2 separate regions of the Homo sapiens genome follow, and region 1 is linked to region 2. Evidence: fine-mapped expression QTL. A gene starts in region 2. The other region holds a variant in brackets. All regions are shown on one strand. Distances are from middle to middle.

Evidence for each region.
Region 1: its variant is fine-mapped to the expression of CDIPT in whole blood (GTEx, PIP 0.95).

Annotation. Positions count from the first base shown.
Region 1 is chr16:29,053,140-29,062,892 of GRCh38, reverse strand. It overlaps the pseudogene PLA2G10CP. Among named protein-coding and RNA genes, the nearest start is that of LAT, 73 kb to the right of the region's middle. RefSeq lists a silencer at 959-1,159. The variant C/T (reference allele first, on the strand shown) is at 4,390.
Region 2 is chr16:29,859,120-29,868,442 of GRCh38, reverse strand. CDIPT (CDP-diacylglycerol--inositol 3-phosphatidyltransferase) reads left to right here and starts at 5,217. Exons shown (of 6, transcript NM_006319.5): 1 at 5,217-5,628; 2 at 5,723-5,857; 3 at 7,184-7,337; 4 at 7,781-7,862; 5 at 8,920-9,001; 6 at 9,109-9,323. The coding sequence starts at 5,586. The coding sequence ends at 9,254. It also overlaps the pseudogene CDIPTOSP. RefSeq lists enhancers at 4,559-5,096, 7,252-7,790 and silencers at 5,145-5,204, 5,215-5,524.

The DNA of each region.
Region 1 (9,753 bases), 810 kb after region 2:
AATTTCAGAAAGCAGCTCACTTTATGTAAAGGGACAGGAAACAGCAACAGATGACATAGATATAGGATGATTCCAGTCTAGTAATAAATATACACACACCAGAAAGAGAGGCATTAAAATGTTAACGGTAGTTAACAGCCTGGGCGACAGAGCGGAGACCCTGTCTCAAAAAAAAAAAAAAAAAGTTAAGAAAAGGAGTGACAATCCACGTGTGGCCCACAAAGCTTAAAATATATACTATCTAGCCCTGGGCAGAAAAGGGTTTGACAATGCTGTTCAAAGGTCACCATTGGTAGATTGGAAACTGAAAAAGGTATATACCCTGGCATTGGACAACACAATGGCTGTGCCTCCTGCCTAAGAATGCTGAACTGGCCAAGTGAGGTACTTGGCAGCCCAGCCCTGAAATGCATAAGCTCTCCAGCCTTTTCATCACTGCTCCTCCCTGGTTCTTAACCTCTGGCCACTCGATCCTCTGGCTTCCCTTCCACCAAGCACTCGCACGTTGAGTCCAGTCCCTAGGCCTCTCCTCTAGGCTGCCCCCTCTGGAAATGTAAGCAGCACCAGGTATAAGAGCCAGGCACAGGCTGCCTTGACGTGCACCTAGCCCCCTTACTTCCCCATTGTGTGGAAGGTAAATCACTTCTCTTTGGGTCTGTTTTCCCATCTACAAGTTGGGAATGACAATAGGGTTATTCTGAGATTAAGTGAGATAAGGCAGCTAAAGCACGCAGTATGGAAGTGGTCAACATGCTGGCTCTGATGTCAGCCACGACCAGACTTCGGGTAACTATTTATAAGTCATTCCCTTCAAAACCTTTCTCTCTGTTCTTTCTCTTCTGTGACAGACTAATACTTGTGCCCCTTCCCTTCATTTAGAAACAAAATGACCCAAGTTTAAATGAACATGTAACTATCCAGCTAGAGGCATTTTAGTCTCGCATATAGGGTGGTAAGAAGGTGAGACTAAGTTCTGGCCAATGGGATCAGTGTAATTTCCAGGCCCTGTATTTCCGCTTCCTTTTGCATGGGCTTGAACGAGGACTTGGGGCTGGTGAGCCGCTTTAACCACACAGATGACAACCTTGGGGATGCAAGAGCAACATGACAGCGCAGCCCTGGGTCCCTAGATGATTTTGCATAACGGTTGTTGTCTAACCCTAACCCTGGACCAATCACCTCTGAACTGTCACATGAGAAATAAGCTATTTTGCTGAGTCACTGTTTGGGGCTCCTTGTGACAGAAGCTGAGTCTAGAATCTAGTTAGTGCACGTCAGAAGGCTTCTCTTCAACTTCAGTATCAGTCCGCCCTCCATATGTGCTGTTCTTGTACTTCTGAACACAAAGAATATTCCAGCTATTTCTTGAAAACAGTCATATTTGTTTATCCTCCAGTCAGGAGAATGTGTCATTCTTGACTCCTTCAACTCCCGAATCCACTGGTCACAGTAGCTTCAGTTTTTTACATCTGCACCTCTTCAATCCTCCCCCCACCTCTGACCCCAGGCACCCTGACTTCAGATGGTTTTTTTTTTTTTTTGGGCTTCATGCTCTTTGCTTCCAATTTCATAGTCTTACACAATGATGCTTCATTCTCTTAAAATGGAATCCATTCATGTTATTTTGTTACCTTTTTTTAGAGACAGGGTCTTGCTCTATTCCCCAGGCTGGAGTGCAGTGGTATAATCATAGCTCACTGTACCCTTTACTTAAATAGACCTTAAGTTCCTGGGCTCAAGTGATCCTCCTGCCTCAGTCTCCCCAGCAGCTTGGACTACTGGCACACACAACCATGTCCGGCTAAATTTTAATTTTTTGTCCTCTCCCTCCCCCTCCCCCTTCCTCTCCCACTTTCCACAGTCTCCCTCTGATGCCGAGCCGAGGCTGGACTGTACTGCCACCATCTCGGCTCACTGCAACCTCCCTGCCTCATTCTCCTGCCTCAGCCTGCCAAGTGCCTGGGATTGCAGGCACGCGCCATCTGTGTTTTTTGGTGGAGACGGGGTTTCGCCGTGTTGGCCGGGCTGGTCTCCAGCTCCTGACCGCTAGTGATCCGCCAGCCTCGGCCTCCCGAGGTGCTGGGATTGCAGACGGAGTCTCCTTCACTCAGTGCTCAATGGTGCCCAGGCTGGAGTGCAGTGGCATGATCTCGGCTCGCTACAACCTCCACCTCTCAACCGCCTGCCTTGGCCTCCCAAAGTGCCGAGATTGCAGCCTCTGCCCAGCCGCCACCCCGTCGGGGAAGTGGGGAGCGTCTCTGCCTGGCCGCCCATCATCTGGGATGTGAGGAGCCCCTCTGCCTGGCTGCCCAGTCTGGAAAGTGAGGAGCCTCTCTGCCCGGCCGCCATCCCATCTAGGAAGTGAGGAGCGCCTCTTCCCGGCCGCGACCCCGTCTGGGAGGTGAGGAGCGTCTGAGAAGTGAGGAGACCCTCTGCCTGGCGACCGCCCCGTCTGAGAAGTGAGGAGCCCCTCCGCCCGGCAGCCGCCTCGTCTGAGAAGTGAGGAGCCCCTCCGCCCGGCAGCCACCCCGTCTGGGAAGTGAAGAGCGTCTCCGCCCGGCAGCCACCCCGTCCGGGAGGGAGGTGGGGGTCAGCCCCCCCGCCCGGCCAGCCGCCCCGTCTGGGAGGGAGGTGGGGGAGTCAGCCCCCCCGCCCGGCCAGCCGCCCCACCCGGGAGGGAGGTGGGGGGATCAGTCCCCCGCCCAACCAGCCGCCCCACCCGGGAGGGAGGTGGGGGGGTCAGCCCCCCACCCGGCCAGCCGCCCTGTCCGGGAGGTGAGGGGCGACTCTGCCCGGCCGCCCCTACTGGGAAGTGAGGAGCCCCTCTGCCCGGCCGCCACCCCGGCTGGGAGGTGTGCCCAACAGCTCATTGAGAACGGGCCATGATGACAGTGGCGGTTTTGTGGAATAGAAAGGGGGGAAAGGTGGGGAAAAGATTGAGAAATCGGATGGTTGCCGTGTCTGTGTAGAAGGAAGTAGACATGGGAGACTTTTCATTTTGTTCTGTAGTAAGAAAAATTCTTCTGCCTTGGGATCCTGTTGATCTGTGACCTTACCCCAACCCTGTGCTCTCTGAAACATGTGCTGTGTCCACTCAGGGTTAAATGGATTAAGGGTGGTGCAAGATGTGCTTTGTTAAACAGATGCTTGAAGGCAGCATGCTCGTTAAGAGTCATCACCACTCCCTAATCTCAAGTACCCAGGGACACAAACACTGCAGAAGGCCGCAGGGTCCTCTGCCTAGGAAAACCAGAGACCTTTGTTCACTTGTTTATCTGCTGACCTTCCCTCCGCTATTGTCCTATGACCCTGCCAAATCCACCTCTGCGAGAAACACCCAAGAATGATCAATAAAAAAAAAAAAAAAAAAAAAAAAAAACATGGTTTCTCCATGTTGGTCAGGCTGGTCTGGAACTCCTGACTTCAGGTGATCTGCCCACCTTGGCCTCCCAAAGTGCTGGGATTACAGGCATGAGCCACTGTGCCTGGCCCCAAATGTGTTTTACATTTTCTTCCTATTTGATTCATCTTTGTCCTGCAACATAAATATGCTACTTTTCCACCGATAAAAAGACAAAATGGAATTTAAATCTGGCCTGGACTTCTCAAAAAAGTCAGTGTGATGAAAACATGTTCTAGATAAAACAGAAATGAGACTGGGCATGGTGGCTCATGCCTGGAATCCCAGCGCCTTCGGAGGCCAAGGCAGGAGAATCACTTGAGGCCAGGAGTTTGTGAACAGCCTGGGCAACATAGTGAGACCCCAGATCTACTAAAAATTTAAAAATTAGCTGGGCATGGTGGTGCATGCCCATATGTCTGGAGGCTGAGGCAGGAGGATCGCTTGAGCCCAGGATTTGGAGGCTGCAGTGAGCTATGATTGTGCCACTGCACTCCAGTGTGGGTGACAGAGTGAGACCCTGTCTCTAAAAAAAAAAAGAGAGACGAGATGATCAGGATGAGCGCAGTGGCTCACGCCTATAATCCCAGCACTTTGGGAGGCCAAACCAGGTGGATCATATGAGGTCAGGAGTTCAAGACCAGCCTGGCCTAGATGGTGAAACCCCGTTTCTACTAAAAATACAAAAATCAGCTGGGTGTGGTGGCGCACACCTGTGATCCCAGCTACTCGGGAGGCTGAGGCGGGACAATTGCTTGAACCTGGGAGGCAGAAGTTGCTGTGAGCAAGATTACACCACTGTGCTGCAGCCTGGGCAACAGGAATGAGACTCTGTCTCAAAAAAAAAAAAAGGGGGGGATGATCAAACACAATGCATCAACCTCCCGGAGCCATATAAACCCTAACCCTAACCCAGGAAGCAGGCAAGCCTGTGTGTGAGTTTCCACTCTATTGCTGGTACCACTCGGCTCTGGCAACCCAGAAGGCCA[C/T]CTTCCCCTGTTGTTACTGTGTAAGGAGGAAGGAGCACTGGTTTGCAAGTCAGAAGCCTGGGTTGAAGCCTCTGCTTGGGTTCCTGCTGGCTGTGGGAATGTGGGGTTACCTTTCCCAGCTGGCCTCGTTTCCTTCATGTCCAATGCAGGGGTTCCAGTCACATGCGTTGGGCACCATTACATGTCCAAGCTGTGCCAGGATCTAGAAAAATGGCTGGACTCAGGCCAAGGGGCCTTCCTGTCTGGCAGTGAAAATAAGAGGAGATACCAAGGGCCCTGAGTCTGGAGGGGAAGTCATGAGCACAGGGCAGTGCCAGGGCCCGGGAGCTGCCACAGAGGAGCCCACCTTGGTGACAGACACCTGTAGGCACATCCGTGATGCCCAGTGCCCAACACAGGGAACTGGACAAACGTTTCATGCACGACTCTTTTTTCCCTTCTTGGCTACCTTGAGGACCTTGATTATAATAGTTATCCTTTTTTTCTTTTTCTTTTTTTGAGACTCTTGCTCTGTCGTCCAGGTTGGAATGCAGTGGCAAAATCTTGGCTCACTGCAATCTTCACCTCTCAGGTTCAAGTGACTCTCCTTCCTCAGCCTCCCTAGTAGCTGGGATTACCGGTGTGCACCACTAGGCTCAGCTAATTTTTGTATTTTTACTACAGATGGGGTTTCACCATGTTGGCCAGGCTGATCTTGAACTGCTGACCTCAGGTGATCTGCCCACCTGGGCCTCCCAAAGTCTTGGGATTACAGGTGTGAGCCACTGAGCCCAGCCGGATTATAATAGCCTTTTCATGCACCAGGGGCTTTATACTCATTATCTCATTTCATTCATATGAGTTGAAGTCAGCTTATCCCCCATTTCACAGATGAGGAAACCAAGGCCCAGAGAGGTTAGGAATTCGTCCAAGGTCACACAGCTAGGAAGTAGGATTCAAACCCAGACAGCCAGGCTGTAACACCTAGGCTCTTCTCAGGCTCATGCCCTTCCCAGGGGTCTGGGAAGCCCTGACCTGCAGCCTGTCACCTTTGTTTACCCCCCAGCCTCCAGGATATTATGTGTGCACCGGCGTGGGATCCTGGAACTGGCAGGAATTGTGGGTTGTGTTGGTCCCTAGACTCCCATCGCCTATACGAAATATGGTTCCTTTTGTGGCTTGGGAGGCCATGGCCAGCCCTGCGATGCCATTGACTGGTGAGTGCATGCCTGGGACCAGGCTACAAAATCCCTCACACTCTGGGGTAGTCAAGGCTTATGAGGAAGTACCCAAAACTGAAGCTGGGATTTGGTCCAGGGAGATCCCAGTGTGCAGTACTACTTTGCAGGCAGGCAGAGGCCTCTTGGATAACATGGCCAGTGAAGCCAGATCTTGGTACCAGCTGCCCCTTACCCTGGCCATGGGCTGAAAACGTTGCCTTAAAAAATTGGCCAGGAGCGGTGGCTAACTCCTGTAATCCCAGCACTTTGGGAGGCCGAGGTGGGCAGATCACTTGAGGTCAGGAGTTCAAGACCAGCCTGGCCAATATGGTGAAACCCCATCTCTACTAAAAATGCAAAAATTAGCTGTGTGTGGTGGCAGGCGTCTGTAATCTCAGCTACTCGGGAGACTGAGGCAGGAGAATTGCTTGAACCCGGGAGGTGGAGTTTGCAGTGAGTTGAGATTGCACCGCTGTATTCCAACCTGGACAACAGTGCCAAACCCTGTCTCAAAAGAAAAAAATAATAATAATATAAAGTGGCCAGGTGTGTTGACTCATGCCTGTAATCCCACCACTTTGGGTCGAGGCAGGAGGATCACTGGAGCCCAGGAGTTTGAAACGAGCCTAGGCAACAGAGTGAGACCCTGTCTCTATATTAAACACAAACACAAACACACACACACACACACACACACACACACACACACACACAAACAAACAAAGGCAGCCAGACTATGCACTAGGAACTGCCCTGGGAATCCCTTTGTGTTCTCACAACAATCCCATTTCACAGATGAAGAAACCTAGGCACAGAAATATTCAGTAACGTGTCCAGGTGCGGTGGCTCACGCCTGTAATCCCAGTACTTTGGGAGGCTGAGGCAGGCAGATCACGAGGTCAGGAGTTCGAGACCATCCTGGCCAACATGGTGAAACCCTGTCTCTACTAAAAATACAAAAATTAGCTGGATGTGGTGGCAGGTTCCTGTAATTCCAGCTACTCAGGAAGCTGAGGCAGGAGAATTGCTTGAACCCGGGAGGCGGAGGTTGCAGTGAGCCGAGATCACACCACTGCACTCCAGCCTGGGTGACAGAGCAAAACTCCGTCTGAAAAAAAAAAAAAAAAGAAGAAGAAGAAATACTAAGTAACTTGTCTGAGGCCACTTAGTTACCAAGACGTGGGAGCTGGGACTTGAACCCAGGCAGTCTGCAGTCTGACTGGATTCATGCCTGCAGCCTCTGCACTCCTGCTACTTACTGTGTGAGAAGCGCCTGTTCTGTGGAAGGTTGTGGGCTGAGATCTTTCCATGAGTTCCACTCATTTACCCCCAAGGCTGTTCTTAAAGACGGGCATGACAGTTATGCCCATTTTACAGATGGGGCCCTGAGGCTCACAGGGGCATGCCACTCACCCATTTCCACAAAGCTATAGTTAGTTAGCAGAGGGCAGAATTCGGCCGCCTCTCCCCTAGCTTGAAGGCTGTGATTGACACAGAGGTTTTTTTGTTGTGGCTGTTGTTTGTTCCTTTTTCTTTTTTTTGAGACAGGGTCTTGCTCTGTCATCCCGGCTGGAGTGCAGTGGTGCGATGTCAGCTCACTGCAAACTCTGCCTCCAAGATGCAAATGATTCTCGTGCCTCAGCCTCCCAAGTAGCTGGAATTACAGGTGTGCACTACCACGCCCAGCTGTTTTTTGTAGAGATGGGGTTAGTAGAGATTTGTTTTATAGAGACGGGGTTTCACCATGGTCTCTACTAAACCCTGTCTCTACTAAAAATACAAAAATTACCCAGGCGTGGTGGCACATGCCTGTAGTCCCAGCTACTCAAGAGGCTGAGGCAGGAGAATCACTTGAACCTGGGAGGTGGAGGTTGCAGTGACCCAAAATCATGCACTCTAGCCTGGGGTCTCGCTTTTGCCCAGGTTAGAGTGCAGTGGCACAATCATAGTGGCTCACTGCAGCCTCAAACTCCTGGGCTGGAGGGAATCCTCCCACCTCAGCCTCCCAAGTAGCTAGGACTATAGGCATGTGCCATCATGGCGAGTTAATTTTTTGTGTGTTTTTATTGTCTTGAGACAGAGTCTTGCTCTGTTGCTCAGGCTGGACTGCAGTGGCATGATCTTGGCTCACCGCAACCTCCACCTCCTGGGTTCAAGCAACTCTCCTACCTCAGCCTCCCGAGTAGCTGGGATTACAGGTGCGTGCCACCATGCCTGGCTAATTTTGTATTTTTAGTAGAGACAGGGTTTCACCATGTTGGTCAGGCTGCTCTCGAACTCCTGACCTCGTGATCCACCTGCCTCGGCCTCTCAAAGTGTTGGGATTACAGGCATGAGCCACTGAGCCTGGCCTGGTGAGCTAATTTTTAAATTTGTTATAGAGACAAGAGTCTCTCTTATGTTGCTCAGGCTGGTCTCGACCCCCTGGCCTCAAGTGATCCTCCCACCTCAGCCTCCCAAAGTGCTGGGATTACAGATGGGTGTCACCGCACCTGGCCTCTGAGGAGGATTTCATTATAAACCTGCCCTGAAGGGAGGGAATCCAATTTTACGAGAGGGTGTAACCTGGTGAGGCCTGGATGACCTCCGGAGGCAGGGGCTTGTGCCTGGGCTGAGGCCTAAGGGACAATGGGCAGACATGAAGTTGCCCCAGGCAGAGGGTACAGTGTGGGCAAGGTCAGGAAGTGGCAGGGCTTGGATCACTCCAGGAAGAGAGAGGAGTCATGTGTCACAGGAGCTCGAGACCCAGAGAGTGAGGCAGGCAGGCAGGGACCAAGCTTGGGCACAGCCAGGAAGGCAGGACAGGGCATGGTGGGGCCAATGGAATCATTATCGAAGTCGGGGATTTTCAGGGAAACAGCTTAGATAAGGCCAGGCGTACAGTAGCTCCCACCTGTAATCCCAGCATTTGGGGAGGCTGAGGTAGGAGGACTGCTTGAGCCTGGGAGTTCGAGACCAGCCTAGGCAACATAGACCCCATATCCACAAAAAATTTAAAAAAGGAGTTTGTGTTCCTGTAGTAGCATACTTGGGAGGTTGAGGTGGCAGTATCACTTGAGCCCGGGAGTTCAAGGCTAAAGTGAGCTGATGGAGCCATTGCACCCCAGCCTGAGCAACAGAGAGATACGCTGTCTCAAAGGAAATACAAATTAAAAAACCAGCCGGGCATGCTGGCGTGTGCCTGTAGTCTCAGCTACTTGGGACACTGAAGTAGGAGGATCGCTTGAGCCCAGGAGTTCAAGGCTGCCGTGAGCTATGATTGTGCCTCTGCAGTCCAGCCTGGGCGACAGAGAAAGACCCTGTCTCTTAAAAAAAAAAAAAAAAAAAAAAAAAAAAAAAAAAAAACTTAGATAAGAGGATGCTGTGCCTCCCTGGGGGTCTTCAGTCACCCATGGTCCTGGCAAGAGAGGAGGGCCAGGAGAGAGCTTCACCCACCTGCTGTCCTGCCCATGTGACATCCGCAGGTGCTGCCATGGCCACGACTGTTGTTACACTCGAGCTGAGGAGGCCGGCTGCAGCCCCAAGACAGAGCGCTACTCCTGGCAGTGCGTCAATCAGAGCGTCCTGTGCGGTGAGTCCCCAGCAGCACCATGCCACCCACCCCGAGTATCCCCTGGGCACCCTGGCATAGCCAGATGACTTCCGTGCCCGTTGCAATAACCACTGCTTCCAACTCTCTATAGAACACCCCTTGGGTATATCTAATGTAAGTGATATTTATTTTATTTATTTTTTGAGTCAGAGTCTCGCTCTGTCACCCAGGCTAGAGTGTGCTGACGTGATCTTGGCTCACTACAACCTCTGCCTCCTGGGTTCAAGCGATTCTCATGCCTCAGCCTCCCAAGTGGCTGGGACTACAGGCATGCACCATCACGCCCAGCTAATTTTTGTATGTTTTTCAGTAGAGGTGGGGTTTCACCAAGTTGGCCGGGCTGGTCTCAAACTCCCCACCTCAAGTGCTCTGCCCGCCTCGGCCTCCCAAAGTGCTGGGATTACAGGCATGAGTCGTGGTGTCTGGCCCTAATGTGAGTGATCTTTAACAATGAGGACTTGAAAAAGAAAACCCTGAAGAAACCTAATTCTTTGATGTCTGGACGACAAGGAAGAAGATAGAAATGGCATCAGATAATAAACAGTGTAAATGTTTATCAGAAAGAGGCTGGTG
Region 2 (9,323 bases):
TTTGAGACGGAGTCTCGTTCTGTCGCCCAGGCTGGAGTGCAGTGGTGCGATCTCAGCTCACTGCAACCTCCGCCTCCCAGGTTCAAGTGATTCTCCTGCCACAGCCTCCCTCCCGAGTAGCTCGGACTACAGGCACGTGCCACCATGCCCGGCTAATTTTTTGTATTTTTAGTACAGACAGGGTTTCACCGTGTTGGCCAGGATGGTCTTGATATCCTCAGCTCATGATCTGTGCTGGGATTACAGGCGTAAGCCACCGTGCCTGGCCACAAAAAAATTTTTTTAAAGACTAAACACTCCAATCGTATGCCCACATCCAGCACCCACATCTAGAAAAAAAAATAAAAGCCCCCCCGTCCTGCTTCTCTACCCCAGAGAAACCACACATGAGCAATGCACACCCTGTCTCTTTATTAAAGCACTTTCATTCCTGGTGGTATCCTTGCTGGCTGAGGCTGGAGGGTCCTGTGATGAATCCAGAACACTTTGAAGGCTTCGGGATGATGCTGCTCATGACCAGGAGGTCCCCACAAACGGAAGTGGTTAACGAGTGGCAAAAGAGTAGTTTTGAGGCATGTTCTAGGGACAAAAAGGGGGAGGCATGAGAAGCCAAGAGCATCAAAGAGGGGTGGGCTCATCTTCCAAACTGACTGTTAGGAAGAGCTCCATAAAAGAGACAGAGCCTTTTCACTCTTTAGACCCAAGGCTCATGTCTTTTTTATTTTTCTCGAGACAGGTCTCCCTCTGTCAGCCAGGCTAGAGTGCAGTGGTGTAATCATATCTTCCTGCAGCCTCAACCTGGGCTCCAATGATCCTCCCACCTCAGCCTCCCGAGTAGCTGGGACCACAGCTGTGCACCACCATACCCGGCTAATTTTTTAAACCTCTTGATAGCAGGAACTCTGTTTCGTTCACTGCAACACCCCAGCCCCTCGAGCAGTGCTGGCACATAGTAAGTGCTTAATTTTTATTTATTTAATTTTTTGGAGACAGAGTCTCGATCTGTGGCCCAGGCTGGAGTGCAGTGGTGCAATCTCAGCTCACTGCAACCTCCACCTCCCGGGTTCAATCAAGTCTCTGCCTCAGCTTCTCAAGTAGCTGGGATTACAGGTGCGTGACACAATGCCTGGCTTTTTTTTTTTTTTTTTTTTTTGAGAAAGAGTCTTGCTCTGCAGCCCAGGCTGGAGTGCAGTGGTGTGATCTCGGCTCACTGCAACCTCCAACTCCTGGGTTCAAGCGATTCTCCTGCCTCAGCCTCCTGAGTAGCTGGGATTAGAGGTGCATACCACCAACCCAGCTAATTTTTGTATTTTTAGTAGAGACAGGGTTTCCCCATGTTGGCCAGGCTGGTCTCAAACTCCTGACCTCAGGTGATCTGCCCGCCTGGGCCTCCCAAAGTGCTGAGATTACAGGTGTGAGCCACCGCGCCTGACCTAACGTTTGTATTTTTAGTTAAGACAAGGTTTCACTATGTTGGCCAGGCTGATCTTGAACTCCTGACCTCATGATCCACCCGCCTTGGCCTCCCAAAGTGCTGGGATTACAGGTATGAGCCACCGCACCCAGCTCCTCCTACTATTTCTTTCTTTCTTTTCTTTTTTTTAAATTTTTCTTTTTGAGACAGGGTCTTGCACTGTCACTCAGGCTGGAATGCGGTGGCATGAACATGGTTCACTGCAGCCTCAACCTCCTAGGCTCAAGTGATCCTCTGGCCTCCGCCTCTCAAGTAGCTGAGACCACAGGTTCGTGCCACCACACCTGGCTAATTTTTTTAACTTTTTATAGAGATGGGGTCTCTCTATGTTGCCCAGGCTATTCTTGAACTCCTGGGCTCAAGCGATCCTCCCACCTCCCAAGTAACTGGGATCACAGGCACATGCCATCATGCCTGGGGTATCACCATGTTGCCCAGGCTGGTCTCAAACTCCTGGACGCAAGCGATCCTCCTGCTTCAGCTTCCCAAAGTGCTGGGATTACAGGCATAAGCGACCACACCCAGCCAGGAAAGTGTGTAAGGCTCTAAACAAGGCACATAAAGTCTCTTGAGTCCCCTCTTACCTTGCCTGTAGACTCCAGCTGCTAAACTGCTTCTCCCTGCCCTAAATACACACAGATGCTCACACTGGCTCTGCGAAGACTGCTCTTTGCCTTTGTTCATGCAACCCCAACTGCTTGAAAGACTCCTACTAACCTCTTTTTTTTTTAACCTGGAAAATTATTTCTTTTTTTTTTTGAGATGGTCTCACTGTCGCCCAGGCTGGAGTGCAGTGGTATGATCTCAGCTCACTGCAACCTCTGTCACCATGTTGACCAGGCTGGTCTCAAACTCCTGCCCTGAAGTGATCAGCCCACCTCAGCCTCCCAAAAATGCTGGGATTACAGGTGTGAGCCACTGCACCTGGTGGAAAATTATTTCTTTAGGTGCTACCTCCTTCAAGAAGCTCCAAAGCCTGTAATCCCAACACTATGGGAGGCCAAGGAGGGCGGATCATGAGGTCAGGAGATCAAGACCATCCTGGCTAACACGGTGAAACCCCGTCTCTACTAAAAATACAAAAAAATTAGTCGGGTGTGGTGGCGGGTGCCTGTAGTCCCAGCTACTTGGGAGGCTGAGGCAGGAGAATGGCGTGAACCCAGGAGGTGGAGCTTGCAGTGAGCTGAGATCACACCACTGCACTCCAGCCTGGGCAACAGAGCAAGACTCCGTCTCAAAAAAAAAAAGAAGAAGCTCCATGGCTCCTGTCCTTCCTGTCCAATTGAAGCTGGGATAAGAGTACTATCCCACTGTGTCCATTTCTATTATGGAAACTTATCCAGACTGTATTATAATTGGCCATTTCCTTGTCTGTCCCCACACTGAACTGTGAACTCTTCAAGGGCTGAGACTGTACCATTCATTTCAGTGTCCCAAGCTCCTAAGACAGGGACCAACATATAGTGCAAACTCAAAAGGTTTGGTTAATATCGAATAGCCTTGGCAGCCATGGACCCTGCATGTACCTTTTCACCAGGAGTTGGCAGGAGGTATGCCTTGCTGCAGGTACGGTTTCTGTCCGAGCAGGAGATGGTGGAAGAGAGGGGAGAGGGCTGAGAATTCAGAATTTGAGGATCAGGGCAGAATAGAATGGAAGTGCACGGTTCAAAAATTCCCCCACCCTGCTGGGATATTGTGAAACCCTCACTCTCTCCCCTCCAGGTTCCTCACCTCTCTCCCAGGACAAAGAGCATCTCCCTTGAAGCCTCACTCACCAGGTGTCTGTGCCTCAGGTCTTGGTGAAGAATGCTGGAAGTAGAGGACCTAGTCAGAGAAAGGACTATCCCCGTGGCCAGAAGAGATGCGGCCAGGGCAGACGGGGCTAAGGGGATTCTCGGCCAGCAGTGAGGAGTGGGTACTGGGTTAGCGGGTGAGAGGGGCATTTCACAGGTCCTAGGGCTGGCTGTGAGATGGATGAGATGGGCACAGACTCCTGGAGAGTTCAGCTAGGGGTGGGAGGGGTCAGGGACTGTAACCAGGCATAGTGGGGGCAGCGGTTCTCTAGACACGGTGGTCCTGAGGCAGGGGGTTACCGCGTTTGGATATCTGAGTCGCTTGGTCTTGTGACTGCTTTTTTTTGATGGGCACAGGGTTCAAGTGGCAGCAAGCAGTGCACAAAGCCTCCTCCATGAGTTCTGCACTGATCTGGGACAGGTATTCCTCAGAACGAGATAACGAAGCCTGGGAAAGGAAAAGCCGGAGGGGTTCAGCCTGGGAGCTCCCACATGGGAGTGCTGGCTGTGGGAGTTCCCAGGCTGGGGCCTGTGGGTCCAAGGAGCTTGCTCCTGAAGGACTGGGCCTTGAGATTTAGCTAGAAAGCTCTGGACCTGGGGGAGGGGGGTTTGGTGGGGGTTTAGAGTCAGGGCCTAGTGCTGAGAGCTATGAGTCGGGGCTTCAGGACTCAGGGTTGAGGCTAGAGTCTCAGGGCCCGTGGCTCAGACCTGGCACGGGGTGCCTCTGCCTGGGAGGCTTTCACTTCATTACATTCCCACCTCTAGGGTTCCCTGCAGTGCTCACCGGACCTCCTCTCAAGGAGGGTGCAGCTTGAGATGGCCAGCTGCTCTTCTTCTCCCCCTCATTCCCCATCGGAGTGGACGCCATCCCCCTGGGAACAGTCGAAGCCTGAGTTGACCTGAGAAACCAGCCCGCTTTCCCCCAGAACCCAGTCCACCACCATTCCCCGGGCCCAGGTTTAAACAAGGCCTTTAGAGGAAACATCCCGCTGCCTCATTCCCTCTCACAAGAAAAAATAATAATAATAATAAAGGTTGCTTTATATCTTCGGGAGTGAGAGGGAACTCCCGCAACCCCCTACCCCTCACCCCTTCGCCTGGTGGGCCTCTCCTTCCTTCTTCCCTCCCAAGCACCTTCCCAAGCCGAGGCAGCCGACTTGACGCCCCAGACCTGGCAGATGGGTGGAAACCTTGGGCTACTCGGCAAAAGGAGAGACGTGGAGGCCTAAGGACCTCTGGTATAGGTCGTGGGGGATGGAGAATGGGAGATGGGGAGGAAGGCTGGAAAAGGGGGAGCCGGCTCCGTGTCGCTACCGGACGCTATAAAACCCTTGGAGTCTGCAGAGGTTCCGCAGCCTCGTTGCTAGGAGATCAGGGGTTCTAGAACTAAAGACAGAGGAATTTCCTAGCGCGCCCCGTTTGCTCCTCCAGCCTCCCCTCCGTACCCCTCCAGGTGCCTCCTTGAGGGCAGTGACCCCAAGCGCCAGACGCTTGAGAAGCTTGGGAGGATGACGTAGGGTGGAGCCTGCGACCTAATCCTCCCATCACAAGGGGCACGCGAAAAGCAACCCATCTGCAGGGCGCTCTGGAGCCTCTCTAGCCGCCTAGAGCCTGCGAGAGCAAAGGCGGCTGGAGACTTAGGGGGCGGGGAGTAAAGTGAGGACTGCACCAAATCTCCTGGCCTCTTGGGGACGCAAAGACTCAGGAGGAGGAATTTTATCGCCTTATCTTTGCCTCCAGGAAGTCATACCCTCCACAAAAGGAAAGCAGAGATTTTTATTCGGTCTTCTCTTTTACCCTTTCCTTTTCCGTTTCTAACTTTGCTTGACGTTAATGGTTCCTTCCTCCCTCTCCTCCTCTGCGCTTTGGTACGAGCCAAGGGAGAGGGGCGGAGGGAGGAAAAGGGAAAGGAAGCCGACAGGCCTTAAAGGGGCCGCAACTATTTTTTTAAGCCACTTTTTCCTCTCTCCAATTTTGCAACGACGGGCGCGGAGGAGGAGGTTCCCGGAAGCCACGCGCAGCTGGAGCAGCGGCGACCGCAGCTGGAGGCCCGGAGCGCCTGCGGGGCTGGCAGAGGCGAGGGAGGTTGCGGGTAGGAAGGGCGGACTGCGCGCGCCCCCTGCGTCCCGCGCACCTCGGGGCCGGTCCATGCTCCCGACGGCTGCGGGCTTCAGCATCTGGGGCCAGGTTGGGGCGGCGGGGTCCAGGGCGCAGGTGGTGCGGCCGATGCGCCGGGCCGGAGGCTGAGGCCGCGCTGCGGGGCTGGGACAGCACTGGCATCTCCAGAGCAGGCCCGGGGCAGCAAGGGAGGCGCCGCGATGCCAGACGAAAATATCTTCCTGTTCGTGCCCAACCTCATCGGTGAGTGCTGCCCACGGCCCCGGGCCGAACGAGAGGGCGAGGGGCCTTGGCGGGCTCCCTGATCCTGCCCTGTCTCCCCGCGTCCCGTTCCAAGGTTATGCCCGGATTGTCTTCGCCATCATTTCTTTCTACTTCATGCCCTGCTGCCCCCTCACGGCCTCCTCCTTCTACCTGCTCAGCGGCCTGCTGGACGCTTTCGATGGACACGCTGCTCGCGCTCTTAATCAAGGTGACAGACACCCCTCTCAGCCAGCCTTGGGGTTCAACAATCCCCTCCTCCCTTCCCCTGCCTCCTCGGGACCTCAGAGTCAGAGGGCTGTCATTCCCATCTCTGGAAAAAGCAGAACAGGATGGCCTGGGGCTTTTTGTTTTGTGTTTTGTTTTTTTGTTTTTGAGACAGGGTCTCGCTCTGTCACTTAGGCTGGAGTGCAGTGGCGCGATCATGGCTCACTGCAGCCCCCATCTTCTGGGCTCAAGTAATCCTCCCACCTCAGCCTCCTGACTAGCTGGGACTACAGGAGCGTGCCACCACACCCGGCTAATTTTTAAATTTTTGTAGAGACTGGGTCTTGCAGTGTCGCCCAGATTGGTCCCCAGCTCCTAGCCTCAAGCGATCCTCCTGCCTTGCTCCCAAAGTGCCGCGCCCAGCAAGAATGGACTGATTTTGTAGCAAAAGGAATTTAAGCTAGCTCTTGAGAACTCACTGCTTGTGAGAGGTGTGGATTAGCAAGACATGACATGGCGGTGGCGCTGCTGGAGGTCTCTCTGAATACAAGTCCATTCAGGCCAGGGGCGGTGGCTCACGCCTGTAATCCCAGCACTTTGGGAGGCCGAGGTGGGTGGATCACGAGTTCAGGAGTTCGAGACCAGCCTGGCCAACATGGTGAAACCCTGTCTCTACTAAAAATACAAAAATTAGCGGGCTTGGTGACGCGTGCCTGTAATCCCAGCTACTCGGGAGGCTAAGGCAGGAGAATTGCTTGAACCCGGGAGGCGGAGGTTGCAGTGAGCCAAGATTGCGCCATTGCACTCCAGCCTGGGCGACAGAGCAAGACTCTGTCTCGGAAAAAAAAAAACAAAAAACAAAAAACAGTGTATTCAACAGGTGTTTACTGGAGGCCTACTGTGTGCCCTGCATAAGCAGTTGGGGTTCCAGAAGGCATGCTTAGAGGGAGGATGGAGAGGGAAGGGTGATGGCTTCTGGAGGGTTGACTAATTTTTTAATCTGTTCTCCAGACCCAACTGTAAGGCTTCCCCTGAGGCATCAAGTCTCTATCTAGCCCTGGAGTCTTGGTTCTGGGGTTGATGAGTTGCAGACATAGCTTTCCTCTCCTCCTACCCTGTTCCCTCCACTCTCATGCCTTTCTCAGTTCATGCCATGGTGACCTTTGCCCACTGACCTCACACACAGCCTGTTTTCTAGCCTGCGTTCCTCCCCAGGCAGGCGGACACTTCCAGTCTTCGTTTACACCCTGCGTCAGAGTGATAAACCAAATATGGGCACCTGTCCTGCATCCACTGTGCCATAACAGCCCTTGCCCACCTAATCTTCCAGGAACCCGGTTTGGGGCCATGCTGGACATGCTGACGGACCGCTGCTCCACCATGTGCCTGTTGGTCAACCTGGCCCTGCTGTACCCTGGAGCCACGCTGTTCTTCCAAATCAGCATGAGTTTGGATGTGGCCAGTCACTGGCTGCACCTCCACAGGTCTGCTGCGATTCTGGGGGCCTGGGCCACTTGGAGACATTACAGTGGGGTGGGCTGAGCCTAGACGGAAGGGTGTCTGGGATGGCACTAGGCATCCTGGAAGGGCTCCTTTTTAGCTCTGCTTTGTAGAAAGACCCCAGGCAAACCTGCCTCTCTTTAAAGCTTCAGTCATGTTTACAGTTGCATTAAGCAATTCTTAGGACTCTTCTGGCTGGGTATTCTAGGATTCCATATAGGTGACAGCTTATAGGAAGGGGCATGGGAGCTTTCAAATGTGGCATTTGAATCCTGACTCTGCCCCCAAATAGGTAACTGTGGCTTTCGGCAGGATACTGGTCCTTAGCCGTGCCCAGTTTTCCATCTGTACAATAGGTGTTAACATGAGGATTGGATGCATGGTAGTGGTCATGAAACCTTGTGGGTTCCCCTGTTTTCTCCCCAAGTTCTGTGGTCCGAGGCAGTGAGAGTCACAAGATGATCGACTTGTCCGGGAATCCGGTGCTTCGGATCTACTACACCTCGAGGGTAAGCATTTCCTGCACACCCCACCCCTCAGGCTCTTGGCTGTGGGAAGCCCTGGGCTGAATCCTGGTCCTAGCCTAGGAGAAGGCGAGGGCGCAGAGCAGGGCCTGCCCAGTCACTCCAGGAGGAGGGCCCGTAAGCTGAGGCGTGGAGGAGGAGGATTGGTGGGGAAGGCCTGTGTGAATTACTCCAGGGAACAAGTGGGAATGAGGCCTGCAAAGAGAAGGGACTGAAAGCGGGAAGGGAGATAAGCCAGAGAGGTCTGCAGGGCTGGAGTGTGGACTTGATTCCAGGAACACAGGCAGCCTCTGGAAGGATTTTTAAAAAGATAATGGCTGGGCATGGTGGCTCATGCCTGTAATCCCAGCGCTTTGGGAGGCTGAGGTGGGAGGATTGCTTGAGGCCAGGAGTTTGAGACCAGCCTGGGCAACAAAGTGAGACTCTGTTTCCACACACACACAAAATCTTGAATTAGCTTAGCCAGGCACAGTGGTACACGCCTGTAGTCTCTACTTAGGAGGCTAAGGTGGAAGGATTGCGTGAGACCAAGGGTTTATTTATTTATTTATTTATTTTTTTGAGACAGAGTCCTGCTCTGTCACCCAGGCTGGAGTTCAGTGGCGGGTTATCGGCTCACTGCAACCTCTGCCTGCTGGGTTCAAGCGATTCTTGTGCCTCAGCCTCCTGAGTGGCTGGGACTACCGGCACGTGCCACCACACTCGGCTAATTTTTGTATTGTTAGTAGAGAGGGGTTTCGCCACGTTGGCCAGGCTGGTCCCAAACTCCTGACCTCAGGTGATCCGCCTGTCTCAGCCTCCCAAAGTGCTGGGACTCCAGGCATGAGCCACACGCCTGGCTGAGACCAGGAGTTTTGAGGCTGCAGTGCTATGATCATACTACTGCATTCCAACCTGGATGAGAGAGCGAGACCCTGTCTGTAAAAAAGAAAAAAAAATAAGAGAAGTAATATGCCGAGATTGTGCCTTCATTAGTGCTGGGGGGGCAGGGGGTGGCACACGCCTGCCTCTTGCTAACGTGGCCTGTTTGCTGTGTGTGCAGCCTGCTCTGTTCACCTTGTGTGCTGGGAATGAGCTCTTCTACTGCCTCCTCTACCTGTTCCATTTCTCTGAGGGACCTTTAGGTAGGAGATGAGGGGCTGGGCAGGAGGATGGGAGGGGGATCTGGCCTGCCCAGGGAGATGGAGGCCCCCTCCTTCGGGCCCCAAACTCCCCTGCTGCCTTCCTGCAGTTGGCTCTGTGGGACTGTTCCGGATGGGCCTCTGGGTCACTGCCCCCATCGCCTTGCTGAAGTCGCTCATCAGCGTCATCCACCTGATCACGGCCGCCCGCAACATGGCTGCCCTGGACGCAGCAGACCGCGCCAAGAAGAAGTGACGCTGGAGCCCCGGGTCCTGGCTGCCCACCTGCCCTGGGAGTCTTGCTGTGCCACACAGCTCCCCACCC